Linked DNA regions of Homo sapiens. The protein of the gene in region 1 purifies or fractionates together with the protein of each later gene. This does not show direct contact. Each region holds a gene or a part of one and is shown in the gene's direction. Other genes may lie near its edges. The genes, in order: TMEM43, CAV2, TTC39C, MMS19, ALDH3A2, ENDOD1 and RTN4.

Region 1 (3,500 bases):
GATGTCAAGTGGAAATGTCAAGGAGGTGGTGGAGGTGGTGGGAGCTGCAGGGCTGTGAGGCCCGGGAGAGGGCCAGAGCTGCAGCTTTAAATTGGAGGGTCACGGCATGTGGAGGCCAAGGAAGCAGATGGGATGTCCGGGGAGAGAGTATGGACTGAAGCAGCTAAAGAATTGCAGCATCTAATGGACAGGAAGAGGGGCAGCGACAGCGATGGAGCCTGAGAAGGAGGGTGCAGTGTCCCCAAGCCATGTGGAGAGGTTCTGAGATTAAACAGATCACACACATAGCGCAGAGCATGCTGCCCAGCAGACATCCTCCAACCTGCTCAGGGGTGGTGGGCAGGGTCCTGCTCATTCCAGGTGAGACCGTGGGCTGAGGGCTCCAGGTGCTGGCAGGCTCTGAGCTGAGGAAGGCCCGTACGTTCCACAGAGATCTCATGCCTTGCCCTGTGCTCTGCCAGATGGGCAGAAGGACTTAGCCCTATAGGAGGCTTGCCCCCACTCCGTCTGGCCTGTTCAGAAATGGCCAACAGCTCCCGAGTTGGTACAGCCCCCTCAGGACCTGCCCTGCCGACTGGGTACGCCACTGGCCCTCAGCATCCTGACCTGCCCCCACCTTGTCCTGCAGGAGGTGTTTCATAGAGAACTAAGGAGCAACTCCATGAAGACCTGGGGCCTGCGGGCAGCTGGCTGGATGGCCATGTTCATGGGCCTCAACCTTATGACACGGATCCTCTACACCTTGGGTAGGTGTTGGGGTGGGTCACTGCCCTCCCTCCTGCACCCTGAAAGGGCCTCCTCTGCCTGTCGCATCATCTCAGCCCTTCCAGCCTGATGGGATGGCCCTTGTGCAGATACCAGGCATTTGGCTCATCTCTGTGTCCCCGCTCCATAGCCTTGGGATGAGGGAGCAGAGGAAGGCAGGCTTGAGGGCAGGAGCTGCCAGGGGCCAGGCTGGGTGGGGCCAACTCTGGGGCACTGGTCTCACTCCACAGCCTGAAGGTTCGTCCATCTGCTGGCTCGATCATTTGCTCATTCCTTTGATCCACAATTGAATACCACATGGGAGCCTGCCAGACCTGCATTTGAAATCTGTCACGTCCAAGCTCTGGATGCTTGGCCGTTCCCTTCCCATCTCAGCTTCAGTCACCTCACCCCTTACATGCAGAGTTTTATGAAATGTGGCAAATAGGAAACACCCAAAACTCTCATGCTTCCTTCCTCACTCCAAAACCTGGGCTAGATTTGGGCAGCCAGCAAGTCTGGAGCATGAAGGAGAGTTCTGGGCCACTCCTTGACCTGAGGTTGGCACCAGTGAGCCCAGTAGGAGACCTGTGGCCCAGCGTGGTTCGGGATCTGAGTGCCCAGGGTGACTAAGTGCGTTCTGGGCCCAGGAGGATGGGGTTCCTCGGAGGACTCTCCATCCAAGCCTTTCCCTGGTGTGTGTCCCTTCCAGTCACATGATTGCATCAGTCTTCTCTGGGTGCCAACAGAAACCTCTTCCCCACTCAGCATGCACAAGTCAGAAGAGGTCTGGCTGCACATCTTGGGCTGTCTGAGCTGGGGGGACCACCTCCTTTGTTTACAGTTGGGAAAACAGGCCCGGGAAGGGAAGGACTCTCCCTGAGCCTTTCTTTGGACAGCTGAATTGTGCTCAGAAAGACCAGTGACGTGGTGGGCACATTAGCGAGAGATGAGCATTTAAACGGAATCCTCTTTCTTGCCTGTGTGACCCTGGGGAGACCAGTTCCCTTCTGGAGCCTTGGTTTCCTCGTGTCTGTCTCAGTGGGCCCTTCTTTGGATCTCTGATGTCTGTGATCCCAATTCACTCTACGTCTGGAATGCGCCAGACTCAGGACAGACTTAGAGTGTGGAGGGACCCCCAGGGTGGGTGGGGAGAGTTGGGAGCGCAGCAGGGAAGCACACAGTTCCCCATGCGTTTGATAAATACCAACGTGTGTAAGACTCCACAGCTAGAGACAGACAAGACTTAGAGCAACAGCTCAGAGCCCAGGCTCTGGGCCCATACGGTCTTGAGTTCAAATCCTGGTTCTGGCACTTTCTAACAGGAGGACTGGTGGTGAGTTTCTTAATTCCCTGAGTCTCAGTGACCCTGTGGGTAAAATGGAGTTAAGAAGAGTACCTACCTTACAGGGTGGGCATGAGTGCTTCATGAGATGGTGCACATGGTGCCTAACACAGGCAACGTTCAGAAACATGAACTTTGCTTATTATAAGGGCTGAGTAGCAGTGCTGTATGGGAACAGATCAGGATGAGGCCAGGTAGTGGCTTGCAGGGTGTGCTGCAGGCATGGTGGGGCACCAGGGCTTGCTCTGCAAACCCAGTGATTCCAGACCATTGGTGGCCTCCTGGGAACTGAGCGAAGATTCCCTGAGTGGACATCAGCTATGGAATGCCAACCTGGAGAGGTCACACAAGGCAAGAATAGGGTAATTCCTCATGAATTTAGCTGGATTCTGGGCTTTATCCTATTGGACCAATAGTCTGTGAGATTCTTGAGGAGAGGCCAATGCTTAGGCTAATTTATTTCCTCTAGCACCTGCTGGTTCAGTGCTGGGCACATAAATCATTAGTAACAGCCTGCTGCATGAATGAACCAACACCTCTAGGAATGGCTGAGAGGCCCAAATAGGCACCTTCAGGAGGCTCCACCCACAGCCTCTTGTATGAGTGTGCAGGACCCAGGTTATTTCTAGCATTACAGGCAAATGTCTTTATACTGGCCTCAGACTACTCTCCACATAAAGTATTAAAGTTTACAAAGCACTGCTACATCCTCTCCCCTGGATCAGGGTAGAGTGGGTGGCTTAGGCAATGTGCCCAACCACGCAGCTCATAGCAGAGGCTCCTGTGCTCCCTTAGCTTTCAGAACGAAGCTCCTTGCCTTCCACCCACTGATCCTCTCCCCTCCTCATGCATGTAGCAACATGGGCCCATCCTCATCTAGGGACAGGAGAGATCTGCTGAGCTGGTGAGGTGTAGAGCAGGTGGCACCTCATCACCTTTCTCCTTTCCACAGTGGACTGGTTTCCTGTTTTCCGAGACCTGGTCAACATTGGCCTGAAAGCCTTTGCCTTCTGTGTGGCCACCTCGCTGACCCTGCTGACCGTGGCGGCTGGCTGGCTCTTCTACCGACCCCTGTGGGCCCTCCTCATTGCCGGCCTGGCCCTTGTGCCCATCCTTGTTGCTCGGACACGGGTGCCAGCCAAAAAGTTGGAGTGAAAAGACCCTGGCACCCGCCCGACACCTGCGTGAGCCCTAGGATCCAGGTCCTCTCTCACCTCTGACCCAGCTCCATGCCAGAGCAGGAGCCCCGGTCAATTTTGGACTCTGCACTCCCTCTCCTCTTCAGGGGCCAGACTTGGCAGCATGTGCACCAGGTTGGTGTTCACCAGCTCATGTCTTCCCCACATCTCTTCTTGCCAGTAAGCAGCTTTGGTGGGCAGCAGCAGCTCATGAATGGCAAGCTGACAGCTTC
Region 2 (3,152 bases), on another chromosome or scaffold:
TCCTTTAAACAAACAATCAACAACAATAAAACACAGAAGTCTGGTGGTGTTGGATCCTAGACCAGAAGTACGGGCCATTAGGAATCAGTGAATTAGTTGGATTCCATACTACAGTCAGACAGAGATAGCTGCTGTTTGTTAAGCACAGGTTATTGGTCATAAGTGGATCATAACCAAAGAAATGTGGCTGGAGCACCCATATCCCTTATTTTTGCTGGAATGCAAAGCAAACAAATGCCCAACTGATGGAAATGCGATAGTAGCAATCTCATTTCTAGAAGACAGTTTTCATACAGTAAATTGCTATGAATGCAGTCTGCATGACTCTACAATTACTACAACACTAAATAAAAGTCTCTATCCTATGGCCTTATTATCCAAGGATATATATTATCCAAGGAATATATAACCTTACATATATTAATATATATAATATATATATATTATAAGATTTACTTAAGAAGTATTGGCCACATTCAGCCTCAACCAAATTTTGGGTCAATCAGAACTGCCTGGAGTTTCAGAAGCTAAACTATTTGTGATGTTGAGAACCCAACTTAAGTTTGATGTCGGAGGATCATTAGATTCTCTGCTCCAAAATGAGGGAACACAAGTAAACAAAAATAAAATCCAAATGAGTTAACAACACCCTATAAACTGAACTCCTCGAATGTGGGTAACTGCTTTGCTGAACAAGAAGATTCACTTTTGACATGTGCTAAATTCCCTTTTAGGACATGGAGATCTAAGGAGTCACGGAGATAGAAAATTTGTTAGCCTAAGGAAGAATAGAAAGTACATTGTATTCTGGCTGGGAGCAGTGGCTCTCGCCTGTAATCCCAGCACTTTGGGAGGCCAAGCTGGGCAGATCACTTGAGGTCAGGAGTTCAAGAACAGCCTGGCCAACATGGTGAAACTCTGTCTCTACTAAAAATACAAAAATTAGCCAAGCATAGTAGCAAGTGCCCATGATCCCAGCTACTCAGGGAGGCTGAGGCAGGAGAATCACTCGAACCCGGGAGGCGAAGGTTGCAGTGAGCCGAGATCACTTCACTGCTCTCCAGCCTGGGCAATAGAGTGAGAACCTGAAAAGAAAGAAGGAAGGGAAGGGAAGAGGAGGGGAGGGGAGAAGAAAGAGAGAAAGAAAGAGAGGGAGGGAGGGAGGGAGGGAGGGAGGAAGGAAGGAAGGGAGGGAGGGAGGGAGGGAGGAAGACAGAAAGAAAAAGAGAAAGAAGGAAAGAAAGAAAGAAAAGAAGAAAGAAAAAAGAAAAGAAAGGAAAGAAAGAAAGAAAGAGAAAGAAAAAGAAAGAAAGAGAAAGAAAGAAAGAAGGAAGGAATTCTAAGTGAAGTGGATTTGGTTAGGAAACTTTCTGATCTAAACTTCAGCCTTTTAATAGGCCAATTTGAGGTCATCTTGTTATAGTTATTTTCATTATATATTCTGCCTTCAAAATAGGTCTATTTATTATACATTATAATGACAGCATCATACAGGCATTTCAGGGGTACATAATAAATGTCAATCCTCATAGCCAGTTCTGAGAGATCTCCTGGTGTCACTTTAATTTGTAGCAACATGCCCAAGACCACATATCAAGTGAGAAATATAATAGAATAATAAGTCTAAAGTTGCCATCATTGAGGTTTCTATTCAGCTATTTATCTCTGAAACACTTAGTAATTAATTTTCTTATTATATAAAAGTGTTTCATGTATTTAGCACTTGAAATAAAACACAATTTGTGGAGACAGTCAATGTGAATAATTCTATATTCTAAAAATATATCAATCAATCAGAAAGCTGCCTAATATTTCCTTCATTTTGGGCTAAGTACAGCAGACCCTCATTTAAGTCATATTTTAATAGCAAACCAAGAAAATCAGCCTACTCCCTTATGCCCACCCAGGTAATAATAAAGCTTCCATTGAGGCTACCAGCAGTGCCTGAAAATCTCACAACTACTTTTGTGCTCAGAGGACATTACTACAACAGAGAACATTATTTAGAAAATTACATATAAAATTAACCATCCTGAGGACTATAAGGATATGCAGCTATGTTAGGAACAAGTGTATGAAAAATAACAATTTCAGGATAGACTAGTTTTCTTGTGTAAAAGTTCTAACATCATTTGCAGGGTTCTTTCAACTATACCATACAGCCCTTTTCAGTGTGTGTGATTACTGTGAAAAAATTAAAAAATATAAAACATAGTTAATAACATAAGGCATAAAAGAATGATAAATTTATGTTAGCTCAACCATTTACTAAGGGTCAAGGATGTCCTCACTGTTTAAAAAAACTTAAACGCTAGTAGGAAAGACAGAAATACAGCATCTATTTATAATACCTTTTGATACATGTGAAAATTAAGAAGTTTGTTTCAGTACTTTAGAAATACAATGAGGGAATATCCGATCTAGCCTGGTCCAGGAAAAGGGAAGAAGACTGAGGCAGCAGGAAAGGCTATCAGGAAGTAAACCCTCAGGGAAGTGTGAAGACTTAAGCAGGTTAATGTTAACTGGCAGAGACCAGGTAGATAAAGACATGGTTTTATTTATTTTTGTTTTACTGTTTCAGATAGCATGCCACCAGTAGAAAGAATATTAGTGTTTATTATCTACATGACTATATTTTTAGGCAACATATTTTTTGTGCATCTTATCACTTTAGTCCATTTGCATTACTATGAAGGAATACCTGAGACTAGGTTATTTATAAAGAAAAGAGGTTTATTTTTGCTCACAGTTCTGCGGGCTGTACAGGAAGCACAGTGCCAGCATCTACTTTAGGCAAGGACCTCAGGAAGCTTCCACTTATAGTGGAAGGAGAAGGAGGAGCAGGCACGTCACATGGCAAGAAAGGGAGCAAGAGAGAGAATGTGGAGGTCCCAGACTCTTTTAGTTAATCAGATCTCAAGCAAACTAACTGAGTGAGAACTCACGTTACCAAGAGGGTGGCAGGCACTAAGACATTCATGAGGGATCTACCCGCTGTGATCCAATTATCCCCACTCGGCCCCACCTCCAACACTGGGGACTACATTTCAAAATGAGAGTCAGGGGGACAAAAAACCCAAATCATTATCAGTGATCATTGTTCATTTATTTGTTTCAAACTCTCAACCAAATTTAAGTAAATGGGTCAGTAT
Region 3 (3,500 bases), on another chromosome or scaffold:
GTCTCTGAACAGACTGAAAGGTGCTGTTAGCTTTGGATATGGCCTTTTTCACCTTTGCATATCCATGGTGCCCCCAAACCTGCTCAAAATCATCAACCTGCTGGGTTTTCCTGGAGACCGCCTACAGGGGCTTTCTTCACTGATGTATGCAAGCGAAAGTAAGGACATGAAGGCCCCTTTAGCTACGTGAGTAGCTGTATTGCAATGCTTTGGTAGATAATATAGTGTTGAAAGTAAGTAAACGACAATCAAAGACTTTAAAGGAAACTTCAGGTAAAATGTTTGGTTGGTTGACAGGGTGCTGTGTCTTATGTCTTTCAATGCAACACCAAGGACTGTGTTCTGTGGTCGTGGTGGTGGTTCTAAGCTGACTTTAGTTAGAGAACAAGGCGTTGTTCACTAGTCTCACAAGTCATGTATTTTAAAACCTCAAATGATTTTATAAGCAGTTTTTGTGACTTTGACCACATTCTCTGAGATTCACGATTCTGATTTTTGGACTTAGGAGGTACAAATTTGCTAAGCTTTTTCTGTGTTTCTGAAATTTTTATTCTTATAAAGAATTCTCACATTGGGTAATTTTCCTTGATGATTCAAGGTGGTTTCCTATATGTGACATGGATATTTTGTGCTCTTTCGCTAAACTGAGTCATGTTATGTTCCTTGGTTTAAACTTAAATAATAATTATTTAAGCAGGAGAGCATGAGGAAGCTGATATAACTATCTAGAACAAGAATTCACCAATTTCTACATCAGTTAAAAGTGATGTGTTTTTTGTTTGTTTGTTTTAGTCTGGCAAATATCTACCATTTGTAACTTGAGTAATTTAACACGATTCCGGATATTCTTTGTCTAACATTACAGCACTTGTCAAAATTTTCCCCAAAAATGTTGATATCATAGAGGACCTTACCTCTATTTCTACTTGTATCAGTATTGAGAAATTTGGATGTTAACTCTTAATCAACTGATAGCTATTTAAAATACCATTAATTTTTCATTTAAAAAAATTATGCCTCCCTAAACTCATTGAAGTACACAGTTGTCCTTTATTAATGTGAATTAATAGGTTTGTTAACTTGTGATCATTTGTCTGTTTATATCTTAATATTTTATGCTTATCTCTGATAAAGAAATGAATAGAATTAATAGTGTCATTAGTATGAGCTCCATAAGAGAACCAAATTTATAAGCACACCAGAAGTATGCATTTACATAAAAATATTTGACATGTTGGTTAAACATTTTTGTCTGGCTGTTGTTTTTTTTTTTTTTTTTTTTGAGACAGAGTCTTGCTCTGTAGCCCAGGGTGGAGTGCAGTGGCGCGATCTCGGCTCACTGCAACCTCTGCCTCCCGGGTCCCGGTTCAAGCAATTCTGCCTCAGTCTCCCAAGTAGCTAGGATTACAAATCCCAGTGACTCTGTTTTGTTTACCTAGTTTAACATGGCCATTTTTTTTTTTAAATAATGAGTTTGGAGCAAGGGAGTCTGAAGTAATTTATTTATTTGCTTGTTTTTTAAATTGAACATCTTCAAAGGCCAGAGAAAGAGCCCTTTGTCTTATCCCCTCACTTATTTTAACCCAACTTAGTATAATTTGTGTCTGTGGTTTCCATATTTAAATTTATTCTTTTTTATAAATTTTCTTTTTCCTTTTGACCTATTTATTTGTGCATGATATTTAAACTTAGATTCTAGGTTTATACCCTAAGTTTTGTGAACGCAAGAGAAAACAACATTTTCCTTTTGCCAAAAATAAATAAATAAAGCTTTTATTACAAGGGAACGGTAAACTCATGGTGACTAGTTACCATTTCTAATTGGTGCATTAATGAGTAAAGTGTAGAATTCAGAGATTTATGTCAGCCATCTCTTCAGCGATCCATCTAGAAGGCTCAGAAAAGCTAAATGCTCCTGTTACTTTATTCTCTTCTCCCCTGAGGGAAGGGTGTCTTCTGATTTATATATTGTGCTAAAGTTGCAGTTTTCCAAATATTAACATTAAAATGGGGAAAGTCTCTGATTTTACTTCTTCAGAGACTGCATAGTAAGCTTTTTGGATAGAGTAGTATTGGAAGAACACATACTGGAGTTTTGAAAAATGGAAATGGTGTAAGGAAAGTTAATGTGCTCAATGTTTCTCTCCCTCTTCCTCTAGATTAGCTCTGCTCTGGTATCATACTGTAGTCCGCCCGTTTTTTGCCTTGGATGGCAGTGATAACAAGGCAGGCCTGGATGAAGCTAAGGAAATTCTCCTTAAAAAAGAAGCTGCTTATCCAAATTCTTCCCTCTTTATGTTTTTCAAGGGACGGATACAACGACTAGAGGTACTGTACCTTCCTCATCTTTTTAAAATAAAGCCTCCGATGATCAAATCTCTGATTCTCACTTGAGGACTGGTATTAAAACGAGCCAGAATGTCCCAGGGCCCCGGAGCATTTTGTTCTTTTGCCTTTCCTTGTGTCTTTGCTAGGGAAGACTCTTCCAGGAACCCAGGATGTTAGTCAGTTACCTTCTGTTCGGAAGATGTGGGCGAAGTAGGGGTAAGATTCCTCATTGCTAATGACACAAGATTGGTGCACTTCCAGCCTAAGGCACGTGAGCATTATTTAGTTGCTGAGTTGAAAAATACAAAATACAATTTTTTTCCCTCTCTGAATTACTAATAATCTCTTTCTAAACTTTGATCTTGGCTAACAATTGACTTATACAAAAGTTACTGCCTTAAATATCAGGGCAACATGAGCTTTGAAATACTAGGAGCTTTTATCACATTTTCATGTGCTTAATTTGGCTCAGTACTGCGTTAAGAACTTTATACACGCTTTTCCATTTCATCCTCAGAACAACCCTGTGACATAGGTGTAAAATTGTCATCTGCATGTTATAGAAAAAATAAACAGGGATCTAAGAGGGCTTCAAGCAACTTCCTGTGCTTGCCCAGTGAGTGAGCCTGGGTTGTCTCACTCCAGAACCAGAAATGCGCTGGCCTTTGGAGTCTACTTCTCCTTTGCATATCTTTTTATCTGCTTGTTTGAGGTTATGAGGATTTGTAGAAAAATGAAACTATAAGAAATTAATCATACCTATGAAATAAGATAGCTGTTATAGTAGCTGCTCCATCTACATTGTTACCAAGAGTTATCAGGGAATCAGTTTGAGATTTTAACAACATCTGTCCTCCAGTTAACCAGGCACTCTGAGAAATCAGCCCCCATGAGTCCTTTTGAAGATTTTTGCCTAGAAATGCTTTCATGGGCACAGGAATAATTTGTTTTTTTGGGGGTGGGGATGCAGGCAGTGGAGTGTATATTACTTTCCCAGTCATTTTTCTCCTTCATAAAGTGACTCCTTAAATCTGAAGACCATGCAGAGCAGTTTTCTAAGTGCTTTGTATATGGAAGATGTGTTTTAGAGATTATACTAGCAGTTGAAAATTGAGATATAAGCTGGGCATGGTGGCTCATGCCTGCAGTCCCAGCACTTTGGGAGGCTGAGG
Region 4 (3,500 bases), on another chromosome or scaffold:
AAATGCAGAAGGAGCACCCTTTGATCACAAAAGCAGCTGCTGCCACCTTTGTTTTGTACCTGGGTTCCTGGTGAAAGTGTCAGCTGTAAAGAAGCTGCAGGCGATGGGAGGGAAATAACCTGGCAGCCTAAGGGTTAAAGGCCTCTTGGGCAAGCCTTCAAAGCCTGCCACTACCTGGCCCCAGCCTTTTTTTCTCACTGCTCCCTGGACGTTTAATTCCAGGCAGCCACCTTTATTCGTAGTTCCCTGAGTGCTTTCCTTCCCAATTCCCTTCACTAGCTCTGTGTAATCGAAGTTAGACCTGAGAGTCAAGGCCCAGCTTGAGTTCCCTACCCCTCCCCAAGGGTTTCCTGATTAACCCAGCCAGACAGCATCTCATACGTCAGAATCTTTGTAGTACGCACTTATTTCTCAACCACTCATGTATTTAGTGGACTAGTTTAGTAGCTGTTGCTGTATACATCTCCACATCCTACCCTCCCAGTTGTACCACCAGAATCTCCTGAAATTGGCATCAGTAGGTACACAATAAAAACTGCTTGAGTGAATGCAATGAGAAATGTTGAAGGAAGAATCTGTGGAATTTGAGTTCTAACTAGTTATTATAGGGCTTGAAGGAGATAGAGGACTCTAAGAAGACCCCAAGGTTTTGAACCAGAGGATGAGGAAAAGAAATACTTTGTCCAAAATTAGGACGAGAGCTGATTTTCAGAGAATGTGATTTTTGAACACGTTGAATTTGCAGGTGATGGATATAATTTTTTTCCTTTTAGTTATTTGGATTTTCCTTCATTTCAGTCTTTATTGTATTGTGTTTTTCCATGTTTGTGATTCCCTAAGAATACCTCTATTCCTTAAGTCAAAGTATTAAAGAACAGTAAAATACAGTTTAGTGAAATATCTGAGGCATTATCAGCAGAAAGGGCATTTTGAGAGCTTGATTGGAACTTAGTCCTGATTGGGATTTTTCTCTCTCCTGCTCCTTCTCATCCTCCCACCCTACCCGCTTCCCCTCACTTCCCTTTGGCTGCTAGTCCAGATTCTCAAGAGGCTTCAACTCCATCAGACAGAGATCTGTTTGTGCATTCTGTGTCAATGATCACATGAATACTCCTTTGACTTCTCAGTGCCCCCACACAAACTGGTGCCTTGCTAAGGAAAGTGTGGGTAGTTAGGAGGTGCTAGTAGGTCCATTTTTAAGAGCAAATCTTGAACGTGTTGGAAAATCTTAGACCCTCCTATAAAGGGAAATGAACTTACACTGATTTTTTCCTTGATACCAGCGAAAATACCGTTAGGAAAATTAACTCTCTGTTAGCTTTCTTCATCCCAGGAGTCCAAGTGCATAATTAATAGTATTTCCAGGTATTACGGGTGTGTTGTTGTTGTTGTTTGTTTGTTTGCTTTTGAGATGGAGTTTTGCTCTGTTGCCCAGGCTGGAGTGCAATGGTGCGATCTCTGCTGACCGTAACCTCTGCCCCCCAGGTTCAAGTGATTCTCCTGCCTCAGCCTCCCGAGTAGCTGGGATCACAAGCATGCATCACCACACACGGCTAATTTTGTATTTTTAGTAGAGATGGGGTTTCTCCATGTTGGTCAGGCAAGTCTCTAAACTTCCGACCTCAGGTGATCTGCCTGCCTTGGCCTCCCAAAGTGCTGAGATTACAGGTGTGAACCACCATGCCAACCCTGGTTATTTTTAATTTTGGATAATTTGCACCATTAAAAGAATTAATCACTTAAAGTTAGTGGCCCATGGTCCATAAACCCAGGAATTTTACTTCTTTCTCATGCCAACCCAATCTCTGTTTATATCACTGTGGTAACACAGAACTTGTTACACTGTGATTGTTTTATTTATTTATTTTAGAAGCAGGGTCCACTCTGTTGCCCCAGCTGGAGTGCAGTGTGACCTCGAAGAACTTCTGGGCTCAAGTGATCCTCTGGCCTCAGCCTCCAGAGTAGCTGAGACTACAGGCCCGTGCCACCACACCTGGCTAATTTTTTTGTAGCGAACAGGGCCTTGTTTTGTTGCCCAAGGTGGTCTCCAACTCCTGACCTCTAGCGATCCTCTAGCCTCAGCCTACTGTGATTGTTTTAAATGTCTTTCTGGGCTAGGCATGGTGGTTCATGCCTGTAATCCCAGCACTTTGGGAGGCTGAGGTGGGAGGATTGCTTGGGCCCAAGAATTCGAAACCAGCCTGTACAGTATAGTGAGACCTTGTCTCTACAAAAATCTTTAAAAATCAGCCCAGCATGGTGGTGTGCCTGTAGTCGCAGCCACTTGGGAGGCTGAGGTAGGAGAATCACTTGAACCCTGGAGGGAGAGGTTACATTGAGCCAAAGATGGCACCACTGCACTCCAGCCTGGGTGACAGAGCAAGACTCTGTCTCAAAAATGAATAAATGAATGAATGTTTGTCTTTCTGCTCCAACAGACTATGGACTTCCCCAAAACTCCCTGCCCATATTTCTATCTTAAGCCCTAACATGGTACCCTATTTATAATATTCAGTAAATGTTGAATGAAAACGAACATATGGCTTTTTTTTTTTTTTTTTTGGGAGATGAAGTCTTGCTCTGTTGCCCAGGCTGGTGTGCAGTGGCGCGATCTTGGCTCACTGCAACTTTAGCCTCCTGGGTTCAAATGACTCTTCTGCCTCAGCCTCCGAAACAGCTAGGATTACAGGCCCATGCCATCATGGACAGCTAATTTTTCTATTTTTTTTTTTTTTTAGTAGAAACAGGGTTTCATCATGTTGGCCAGGCTGGTCTCAAACTCCTAACCTCAAGTAATCCACCTGCCTCGGCCTCCCAAAGTGCAAGGATTACAGGTGTGAGCCACCATGCCTGGCCACCATCTTCCTTACTTTTTTTTACGGTCTTGTAATAGCTTTATTATCTCATTTTTCTCTAATTTTTTCTTTCTTTTCTTTTCTTTTTTTTTTGAGACAGAGTCTCACTCAGTCGCCCAGGTGGGAGTGCAGTGGCTCCGTCTCCACTCACTGCAAGCTCTGCCTCCTGGGATCACACCATTCTCCTACCTCAGCCTCCCAAGTAGCTGGGACTACAGGCGCCCGCCACCACGCCCAGCTAATATTTTTGTATTTTTTTTTAGTAGAGACAGGGTTTCACTGTGTTAACCAGGATGGTCTCAATCTCCTGACCTCGTGATCCGCCCGCCTCGGCCTCCCAAAGTGCTGGGATTACAGGCGTGAACCACCGCGCCCGGCCTCATTTTTCTCTAATTTTTTCTACTTTTATACTTTTTTTTTTTTTTTTTTTTAGATTGAGTTTCACTCTGTAGCCCAGGCTGGAGTGCAATGGCATGATCTCAGCTCATTGCAAACTCTGCCTCCCAGGTTCAGGTGATTCTCCTGCCTCAGCCTTCGGAGTAGCTAGGATTACAGGCATGCGCTACCACACCCGGCTAGTTTTTGTGTTAGTAGAGACAGGTTTTTGCCACGTTGGCCAGACTGGTCTCAAACTCCTGACCTGAG
Region 5 (2,673 bases), on another chromosome or scaffold:
ATTTGAAAGGGGGCCGGCGCAGTGGCTCACACCTGTAATCCTAGCACTTCGGGAGGCTGAGGCAGGGGAATCACGAGGTCAGGAGTTCAAGACCAGCCTGACCAATATGGTGAAACCCTGTCTCTACTAAAAATACAAAAATTAGCCAGGCATGGTGGCACGCACCTGTAGTCCCAGCTACTCGGGAGGCTGAGGGAGGAGAATCACTTGAACCCGGGAGGTGGAGGTTGCAGTGAGCCAAGATCATGCCACTGCACTCCAGCCTGGGCAATAGAGCGAGACTCCATCTCAACAACAACAACAACAAAAATTTGAAAGGGGTTTGGCTCATCTTACAGTATCCCAGCCTTAGTGGAATTGGAGATACCAGTTGCATTTGAAATCATTTGGGTTTTCTCAGAAATACCAAGCTGTGCTGAGGAGAAAGGCCCTGTTGATTTTTCTGGTAGTTCACAGACTGCGTTGGTCCAGTAAGCAGAGATGAACACCAGATTTCAAAACCCAGCCCTGTCTGTTAAGAGTGAGGTAGGAACTTTTTGTTTTCTTTCTATATGTAAGGTGGGCCAAGTTGGGGTATGTTTTCAAGGGTTTTTTGGTTTGTTTTTGTTTTTGTTTTTGTTTTTGTTTTTATTTTTGTTTTTTTTTTGCTACAGTTGGAGGCTTAAGGGTTATTGAAAAAAGAATGGGCCGGGCGCAGTGGCTCACGCCTGTAATCCTAGCACTTTGGGAGGCCAAGGCAGGTGGATTGCCTGAGTTCCGGAGTTCGAGAACAGCCTGGCCAACATGGTGAAACCCCATCTCTACTAAAAATACAAACGTTAGCTGGGTGTGGTGGTACGTGACTGTAGTCCCAGCTACTAGGGAGGCTGAGGCAGGAGAATTGCTTTAACCCGGGAGGCAGAGGTTGCAGTGAGCCAAGATTGTGCCACTGCACTCCACCCTGGGTGACAGAGCAAGACTCCGTCTCCAAAAAAAAAGAAAGAAAAAAGAATGTTTAACTTACTTATCTCTAGACATTTTGGACCTGGGCCCAGAGTATCAGGGTGTTAAAACTCCACTTATCCACAATTTTAAAAGGGTGAAGTGACTTGCTAGGAATCTAAGAGAAGTGTGCAGAGGCAATGGCTTAGCTGCGTCCAGGTGAAGCATACATCATTTCTTGGAAAAGGGCAGCTGAGTGTGAGCCTCATTTCTCTTCCCCTTCTACTCAGCTCTCCTGGGGGAGGTGCCAGCTGACTAATTCAGACTTGTCACCATCTAGGCACTGAACTCTTTATGTCATAATTTAAGAATATGTTTTTTAAATCACTAAGTAGTTTTGATTTGTTTTCATTTTTAAAAAAAGGTTTGACTTTGGAATTCATGGCAGCAAATGTCGTGAAATCAAGGTGTAGTATACAATTTAGGGGCTACTTTCTTTGCCTTCCTGAGGCTGGAGGTGTGGTCGGAAGCTTACTTGGGTCTCTGGTCAATATCTGTCTCTTTTGTTCTTTTCCCAAGACCTCGGTTCCTCAGTTTGATAATGCATCTTGGTAGGATAGAATATTTTAGCCTCATGGAAAATACGGAGGCCCAGGCTGAGTCTGCATTCTCCAATCTTACCAAACCCCCAAGAAGCCTCCCTCAGGTGCAGTGCAGTGTGCCAGGCAGGTTCGAGTTCCCAAAGGGTTTGGCAGGCATGTTTCTCTGTGAGGGTCTAGAGAAGCAGCAATATATAAAAGAAGCAGCAATATATAAAACCTTTAGCAGAAACAAAAAAATGTGGTTTGATTCCTGGCTCAATGAACTTGGGCAAGGCCTTTTCTGAGCTCTTTCTTGGGCCTCAGCTTGCTCATCTACAGGGTGAGGGAGTAGGTGTCAGTGATTCCCCAGGCCACTTTCAACCCTTCCGCTCAATTCTCATTACTAATAGTTGTTAATATTTCTTTGGATTCAATCTGGAACTAGGTAGAGATTTGGTTTTCTTTTCCACTTTGCTGCTTTTCTGCTCCTTTCTGAGCTTTTAATCCTCTTTTTATCAAATTACCTTTTATTTAAAATAAATGACTTTGAATCTGTACTGTATATTTACCTGAATAGTCTATTTATTGTAATTACATTTTTCTGAAATGGCTTTTATGTACTTAATAGTTTCCTTATTTTGTTACACTCTTGGATTTTATTTTATTAATTACCTTACTAGAATTAGAAGGGATTTAGAGCAGAAGTATTGTACACAAAGTAAAGTTCCAATAAAGCTTATAAGCTACAGAAGGCATTGTGGGAGATGTGGGTTTTAAAAGGTCGAGAAACATAAGAGGTTAATGTTGATAAATTTCATTAGGCCTTTGACAACTAAATATGACATTTGAACCTTGAGATTGCAGCAGCCCTTCCTCAGTCTTCAATAGGAAGGATTAAATTCAGTACTACTTTTGAATTTTAGAAACAAAATTGTATACCAGTTTTTGAATTCCATGTAGAGACTTCAGCTTCCTACTGAAAATGCTAGGATAATAAGTTAGTACTCTCATCTTCTGTCTCTACTCTGACATTAGCTAGTTGACAGTGGACAGAATATAGCCTTCATTATCACGTTGTCTTACTCTTATTGTTATTGTTGTTTTTTGAGGAAGGGCATAATCCTTTGGCCTAAACCGTGCTTCCTAGGCTTCCTAGGGATATGTAGTCCTT
Region 6 (3,500 bases), on another chromosome or scaffold:
CTTGGCGGCTTCCAAGCATTTTATAATGCTGAGTCTCCTTGTACCCACATCACCTTTTTATGAGGTCAGTGTTACCAAGAGGACCCGCACACAGGGGAGGAAGAGGCAGGAGACCAAAGGAACTCAGTGCTTGCCTCCAGTGATGAGTCAGGCAGGGCAGCAGTGACACTGAATTCCCAAAGCCCAGTTCGGCAGCTTTTGAGTCCACACTGCAGTTTCCCTTTGAAAAGAATCTCCTAAGTCAAAGATCACAGAAACTTAGTCACTCTTGTGCTGAAAATCTGTAAAGTGTTGCCTGCCCAGCCCCTACAGGACAAAGTTCACACTGCAGAATGCAGTTTACAGGCTCTCCATAGCCTAGCTCCTGTCTCCAGCTCCAATCTAGTTTCTCACCATGCTCCACCCTCATATTTTATGTTCTAGCATTATCCAGCTGCCTGGAGTTCCTCTCATAAACCAGACTGTTTGTGATGTCTGTTTCTTAGCTCATGCTGATTCCCTTTGCCCAAATTCCCTTTCTACACAGACCCCATCTTATCCTTCACTTCCTGCCCTTACTCCATCCTTTAAGACTCTGCTGAGGTGTCACCTCCTCCAGAAAGAATTCCCCACCTGAACTGTATCCACCTCCCAAGTTAGGTTCACCCCTTCAGTGCTCTTATAGTTTTTCTATTTTCATACTTACCATGTTGTTTTGTAATTATCTGCTTATGTATCTGTCTCCCCAACTTGAGCCCTTGAGGAATGATGATTGCATCTTACTCATTCTTTTCCTAGTGCCCAGCTTATAGAAAGCACGCGATAAGTGTTGAATAAAATAATTTGATGTTGGGAGGATCAATCAGGCAGGAGCAGGTGAGATGTTCTGCTTCAGTTTTCTCAGTGGGGCGCTTCCTGTTTCAGAAGCTTGCACCAGGGCTGGCCAGCAGCAACTGTTACAAACATGCTCCCTATGCAGAGCTGGAACCCTGCTCTGCAGCCACTCCATCAGTCTTAGCTTTGGCCTTTGAAACTATCCCAAATGATTTTGATCTCTGCTCTGCCTACAGGAGATGGTTTGGAGGAGTTCTAGTCAAGACTCCAGAAACCTGAGAACTGGATTCTGGTTTAGTGCAGGAAGCCTCAAACCTTTTAGTTTGTTGACTCCTTTCCACTTAATGGAAGAATTTTTAGATAAGATGCCAATGATACCTTTCTAAAGTGCATTGCTGATTTATGCCAGAAGCCAACATATAAAGCTCTATCATTTTATAAACATGGAAGGAACTGAATATATAAATTATATAATTAATATATTATACATATTAATTATATAATATATAATTTATATATTCAGTAACAATAGTGTATATTTGTTCAATCTTAAAAAATACTGTGAGGTAGATATTATCTTCATTGTAGAAAGGAGGAAACTGGCTAAGGGAGGTTAACTGAGGTGTTTTAGGGTCACACAGCTTATTTTTGAACTCATTACTGATTACTCTTCTGATACACTGTGGAGATTCTTTGATCTCACAATGGATCCACTGCGCTAATGGTCTTAGGACTCTAATTTTCATCTTTTATGTGAGAATTCTAATTTCTACTCCACTTCTATTTTCTGACAGTCATAGGACAAGTGGGAGCACTTACTTGGCTGCATAAAGGTTGCTCAAGTGTCACTTTACTCTGGAATGAAGGGGATATTCTGGTTAACTGCAAAAACATTTTCCTGGAGGGCACAGTGAGGTCTTACTTCAGATCTTAGTAAATGCAAATGGTTGTTTCAAGTTAGAACCTTGATTAAGTCCTTGATTTTTAATTTCCATCCATGGCTTATACAACCTGAAACAGAAATACTGTTCAATTTGTTCCAACCTCAGCCTTCTTTTCATTGTGTCAGAGAACAGATATATAGAGCATCATACACTTAAATCTCTGTGTAAGGAATGCAGTGAACAGGACAATCCTGATTCTTACTCCTTAATTAAGAGACTTAATTCAGATCCCTGCTCTTCCATTTACAAGCTATGTGACTTCCAGCCCCATTTTTTGGATCTGTTCATTAAAGGTTGTAAAAGTGTTTATAGAGAGGTTGTGACAAATAAACAAGATAACACATGAGAGCATGTGGCATGGTACCTGGAATATGGTAAACTCTTAGTAAATATTAATATGTATATAAGGTGTTACTTCAGTAGGTGCTAGGCGTGTGCACGCACACACACACACACACACACACACACAAATGGAATGTTGGATTAGATAGGTGACATCTACAATTCTGCAAATCTCTCCTAAAAAGTAAAATATCTATCCATGTATCTTCTCAAATGCTTGGTGTATGTCCCACATTCATACAGTAGCTGCTTCATAAATGCATGATGAGAGATGAAATGTGTGGAAGATTGAATGAATGGATGGAGGGTGGATTTGAGTGATTAAAAGCAAAAACAAACCAAACAGGTACCAAAGACATCTCCACCCTCTCTGTCCTGGAAAACCAAGAAGTGTGTTGTCAGAAAACAGTGAGCAATGGCATTCCAGTCTATTGTGCTGAGACTGGATAAGACTGGGAAGTGCCTGACCCAGGGGATGGTTCCAACCTTTGTTGAATTTTTCCCTTCTGGCTTTTTCTTCATCTTTGGATTTAGTGTTTCCTTTTGTTTTGCAGGCCATTCTCAGGATCAAGTTAAGGTATTTACCTGCGTTGGCAGAATATTTCAGGGACATCTGTCCTGAAGCAGTCCAGTGGTGACAATTCCCTATACTATTCTTTCAGTTTAGACTTATATCTGGACAATCTAGGCAAGGAACTATCATTTATTGATCCCTTACCATGTCAAAGGTCTTCACATTCTAACTCATCTCATCTCTATAACAACTCTAGGTATTATGACTTGTGTTTTATAGTTTAGGAAACTGAGGTTCGGAGTAGTTAAGTAACTTATCCAAGGTCAAACAGCTTCTAGATGGCAAAACCTGGACAGGAGTTTATGACTGCCCAAATCCAAAGCTCTTAACTCTCTTTATTCTCTATCACACTATTTTCTAACTAAAATGTTAGTTTTTTCTCTCCAGAATCCAAACTGGCTGACTAGACTTGTTATTTTATTTTTAATCCAGTTCTTTGGATGGTTTATGGTTTCACTACTAACATACCATTCTGTATGTAAATGCCAGCTTCAGATTTCTTTTAGCTCCGTTACTGGTGATTCATGGTGATTGAATGGAGCTTTCCTTAGGGAATTGAGATTTTATTCTTTGGGCATAAAATTTCTCTTCCTTTTAAACTCTCATCTCTGAAAGTGAAAATTTTAGAAAGTAAATCCTCTTATTTGCCAGTAGCATTTGTTTTCAGTTATCTGGTCTATCTTCTAGAATTACTGTTAGTCAAGAAAGCTTTTTTTTTTTTTTTTTTTTTTTTTCAAATTTCCTCCTTCAAGATGCATGTTATATCTTCTGAATGGTGACTTACCCTTTCATTTTCATGAAACTTAACATCTGTCATAGTAATAATT
Region 7 (3,500 bases), on another chromosome or scaffold:
GCTCATTGCATGTCCTGAAAGTGCTGCAAGTATGGATTTTGGGGCTACAAATTTAGTGAGCAGGTAAATGAGCAAATAAGGAATCCATGAATAATGAGGATCATCTGTATATAATTTTAGATTGTCAGTTTTTTCATAACTTTAAAGGCGTTCATTACCTTTTGGATTACATCAATGAGAGGTGAGGTCATTCTTATTGTTGTTTACCTGCTTTTTTCCTCTGACTGTTTTTAGGGTTGTCTCTATCTTTGATTTTCAGTTTGACCCTTATGGTGTGCCTTTTTGTGGTGTTGTGTTTATTCTGCTTGGAGTACATTGAGCTTTGTGGCTCTGTTGGTTGGTATTTTCAAAATGCCAACTTCTGTCCAATTTTAGGCCATTTTTTCTTTTTTTTTTTTTTTAACTTCTTCAGTCTTTTTTAAAGAGACAGGGTCTTAACTGTGTTGTCCAGGGTGGAGTGCAGTGGCGTGATCATGGCTTGTTACAGCCTCAAACTCCTGGGCTTGAGTGATCCTCCCATCTCAGCCTCCTGAGTTGCTAGAACTGCACGTGTGCACCACTACACCGGCTAATTTTTAAGTTTTTTGTAGAGATAGGGTCTCACTGTGTTGTCCAAACTGGTGTCCCAACTCCTGGCCTCAAGTGGTCCTCCCACTTTGGCCTCCTAAAGTGTTGGGGTTACAGGCATGAGCTCCCATGCCTGGCCACTGTTGCTTTTTTTAAGGGGACTGCAATTATAGGTATTTTAACTCCTTGATTGTCTCTCAGCACTGAGGCTCTGTTCCTTTTTTCACTTGCCCTTTTCCCTTGTTGTGTTTCAGTTTGGATACTTTCTGTTGTTGTTTTTTAAGTTTGTTTATCAATAAATCTTTTTTTCTGTATTGTCTAATCTGCCTTTAAGCTCATCTAGTGATTATTTTCAGTTAATATAATTTACAATTCTAGCATCTCCATTTGGTCCTTTAGTCTATATTTCTCCACCAAGATTCCCTGTCTACTCTATATGTCTGTCTTTTTCTGTACTTAATATCTTAATAGCTATTTTAATTTTCATTTTAATATTTGCTAATCCAGGCCAGGTGTGTTAGTTCACACTTGTAATTCCAGCACTTTGGGAAGCTGAGGCTGGCGGATCACTTGAGGTCAGGAGTTTGAGACCAGCTTGGCCAACGTAGTGAACCCCGTCTCTACTAAAAACACAAAAATTAGCTTGGTGTGATGGCAGACACCTGTAATCCCAGCTACTCAGAGGCTGAGGTGGGATAATTGCTTGAACCTGGGAGGTGGAGGTTGCAGTGAGCCAAGATAGCCCCGCTGTACTCCAGCCTGGGTGACAGAGCAAGACTCCGCCTCAAAAAAAAAAAAGTGCGAATCCAACGTCTACGTTATTTGTTTGTTTATATTTGCTATTCTTTCTTATTTATGGTCATATTTTCTTGCTGCTTTGCATGTCCATTAATTTATTTTATACTGCATGTCATGGATTTGGTGGTTTTAACTTTGTTCTGGCAGGCAGTTAATTTGCTGGAAAATCATTTTGATCCTTTCAAGTTTTGATTTTAAAGTTAGGGTGGGTCTAGAGGTAGGGGTCTGCAGACTTACAGGGCCAGTTAGAGTAAATAGTTTAGGCTTGTGGGCCATACAGCCTTTGTCTAAACTGTTCGTCTCTGTTTTTATTGTGCAAAAGTAGTTATAGACAGCACAGAAGTGAATGGGCGTGGCTGTGTTCCAATACAATATGGGCTCATGAGCCATGGTTTGCTGACTCTTGGTCTAGAGTATCCTTTAGGCTTAGAGTAGTCCTGCTTGAGGTGTTTAGAGAGATCTTTCCTTTCTGACTGGTCAGAATTTTTAGATCAGGTCTTCAGCACTTTCTGACCTTCGATATAATCCAGTTAATTTGCAGCTCTACCATAGGTTTCTTGGCTAGGCCTTGCCGAGTCTTGTGCTGTGCACATGCAGCGTAGTATTCACCCAGAGGTTTAAGAGGAACCCCTATCCAGATTTTTGGAGCTCCTTTTCTGTGAGGCTTTACTTTGTATGTTACCCTGTCTCACAAATTCCAGACAACTCCTCAGCCTCCTCAGCTTAGCAAGAGTGCGGTATTCTTAGGCTTCTCTCTGTACTGTAGACCAGAATGTGCCTTCAGACAGAAAGCAGCGTAGTCATCTTGCAGGTTTCCCTTTTCTCAGGATTCACACTGCTGTCCTGCCTCTTGTCCAGTGTCTCAAGATAGTTGCTTCTAGTATTTTGCCCATATTTTTAGTTGCTTATATTGGAAGAATTAGTCTGTTGTAATTACTCTCATAGCCAGAAGCAGAAGTTCTATGGTTTTAAAATGCAGGTTTTTTGTAGTATTGTAATTAGATATGATTTAAATGCCTCTTTTCTCGTATGTGAAATGGGGGTAACAGTAGTACCTACCTTACAGGGTAGTTTTGAGAACAGAATGAACATCTGAAACAAATGTGCCGGCTCAGCACAGTACCTGTCCCACATTAATGTTTCTATAAATGTTGTTACATTGTAAAATAGAAGCAATTGATCAATGCAATATTTCTGCTAATTACAAGGTATTTACTGGGTGACGATTTACCTTGTTTCAGGAGAACTAACTTGAGGGGCTGATACAGTAAGAAGGATTGCACCAGTTGCACTTGTACATAAATACATCCTTCAGAAGATGAAGCACATCTCGTGCTTTGAGGAAGCCTAGCCAAAAAATAATAATAATTATAAAGCACAAAGACTTGGGAATTAGATGTTTTGACCCTCTGGCCTCCTAGTTCTGTGACTTAGGGCAAGTTGTTTCTTCTTTTTTCTTTCCCTCTCCCTCCTTCACAACATTTTTAGGTGGGTACTCTTATTATCCTTATTTTACAAGTTTCATTAGGCACAGAAAGGCTAAGAGTTACAGTTGTAAGTGATGGATTTGTGATTTGGACTTAGGCAATTCAATTTCATGATCTGTGATTGCTTTATTAGGAGTCTGAACTGTATTCTTGAAGTCCCAGAAGATAGTTAACTATTCTGGATTTTTTTAAAGAGCTTTTAGAAATGTAGTACTTGTTTTATGGGTAACTGGATCGAATCCCATTTTACAAAATGAAGATTTTTCTTTTTTTCTTAAACATAATGAATCTTTGAAATACCAATTTGAAAACTTTTTTACTTAGAAAAATTCCAGGAATATAGTTTTTATTATAAAAGATTATTGCACTAGGTAGGAATAAGAGTACAGTACATTAAAAAAATACTTTAAAATTATGGCACAAATTTAGATGTAGTTTGTTTTCCCACTAACTTTAACAGTAATATATGTTTCTAGTTCACTTTCCAGATAGACTAGCCTCTGAATTAGTGGCTTTTAACTATATTGTCTAGATAAAAAAGACAACCATTTTGTTAAGAATTGGTTAACTGTTATTTAGATGGAGCAGCTGCGTAATTATTTGGTTCTGCTCTTTGACCCTCAAATTTCAGTTTTATACAAGCTAATA

What was found.
Region 2: the proteins of TMEM43 (region 1) and CAV2 purify together in Homo sapiens (affinity purification with mass spectrometry; 2 studies listed by BioGRID and IntAct, with this or other methods). This does not show direct contact.
Region 3: the proteins of TMEM43 (region 1) and TTC39C purify together in Homo sapiens (affinity purification with mass spectrometry; 2 studies listed by BioGRID and IntAct, with this or other methods). This does not show direct contact.
Region 4: the proteins of TMEM43 (region 1) and MMS19 purify together in Homo sapiens (affinity purification with mass spectrometry; 2 studies listed by BioGRID). This does not show direct contact.
Region 5: the proteins of TMEM43 (region 1) and ALDH3A2 purify together in Homo sapiens (affinity purification with mass spectrometry, with the first as the bait; one large-scale study listed by BioGRID). This does not show direct contact.
Region 6: the proteins of TMEM43 (region 1) and ENDOD1 purify together in Homo sapiens (affinity purification with mass spectrometry; 3 studies listed by BioGRID and IntAct, with this or other methods). This does not show direct contact.
Region 7: the proteins of TMEM43 (region 1) and RTN4 purify together in Homo sapiens (affinity purification with mass spectrometry; 4 studies listed by BioGRID and IntAct, with this or other methods). This does not show direct contact.

Annotation. Positions count from the first base shown.
Region 1 is NC_000003.12:14,138,552-14,142,051, forward strand, and holds part of TMEM43 (transmembrane protein 43), read left to right. Parts: intron 1-628; coding exon 629-746; intron 747-3,041; coding exon 3,042-3,244; 3' UTR 3,245-3,500. UniProt on the Homo sapiens protein: May have an important role in maintaining nuclear envelope structure by organizing protein complexes at the inner nuclear membrane. Required for retaining emerin at the inner nuclear membrane.
Region 2 is NC_000007.14:116,502,738-116,505,889, forward strand, and holds part of CAV2 (caveolin-2), read left to right. Parts: intron 1-3,152. UniProt on the Homo sapiens protein: May act as a scaffolding protein within caveolar membranes. Interacts directly with G-protein alpha subunits and can functionally regulate their activity.
Region 3 is NC_000018.10:24,080,754-24,084,253, forward strand, and holds part of TTC39C (tetratricopeptide repeat protein 39C), read left to right. Parts: coding exon 1-186; intron 187-2,159; coding exon 2,160-2,328; intron 2,329-3,500.
Region 4 is NC_000010.11:97,491,923-97,495,422, reverse strand, and holds part of MMS19 (MMS19 nucleotide excision repair protein homolog), read left to right. Parts: intron 1-3,500. UniProt on the Homo sapiens protein: Key component of the cytosolic iron-sulfur protein assembly (CIA) complex, a multiprotein complex that mediates the incorporation of iron-sulfur cluster into apoproteins specifically involved in DNA metabolism and genomic integrity.
Region 5 is NC_000017.11:19,672,751-19,675,423, forward strand, and holds part of ALDH3A2 (aldehyde dehydrogenase family 3 member A2), read left to right. Parts: intron 1-400; coding exon of another isoform or gene 401-484; exon of another isoform or gene 485-525; intron 526-2,673.
Region 6 is NC_000011.10:95,092,846-95,096,345, forward strand, and holds part of ENDOD1 (endonuclease domain-containing 1 protein precursor), read left to right. Parts: intron 1-3,500. UniProt on the Homo sapiens protein: May act as a DNase and a RNase. Plays a role in the modulation of innate immune signaling through the cGAS-STING pathway by interacting with RNF26.
Region 7 is NC_000002.12:55,029,952-55,033,451, reverse strand, and holds part of RTN4 (reticulon-4), read left to right. Parts: intron 1-3,500. UniProt on the Homo sapiens protein: Required to induce the formation and stabilization of endoplasmic reticulum (ER) tubules. They regulate membrane morphogenesis in the ER by promoting tubular ER production.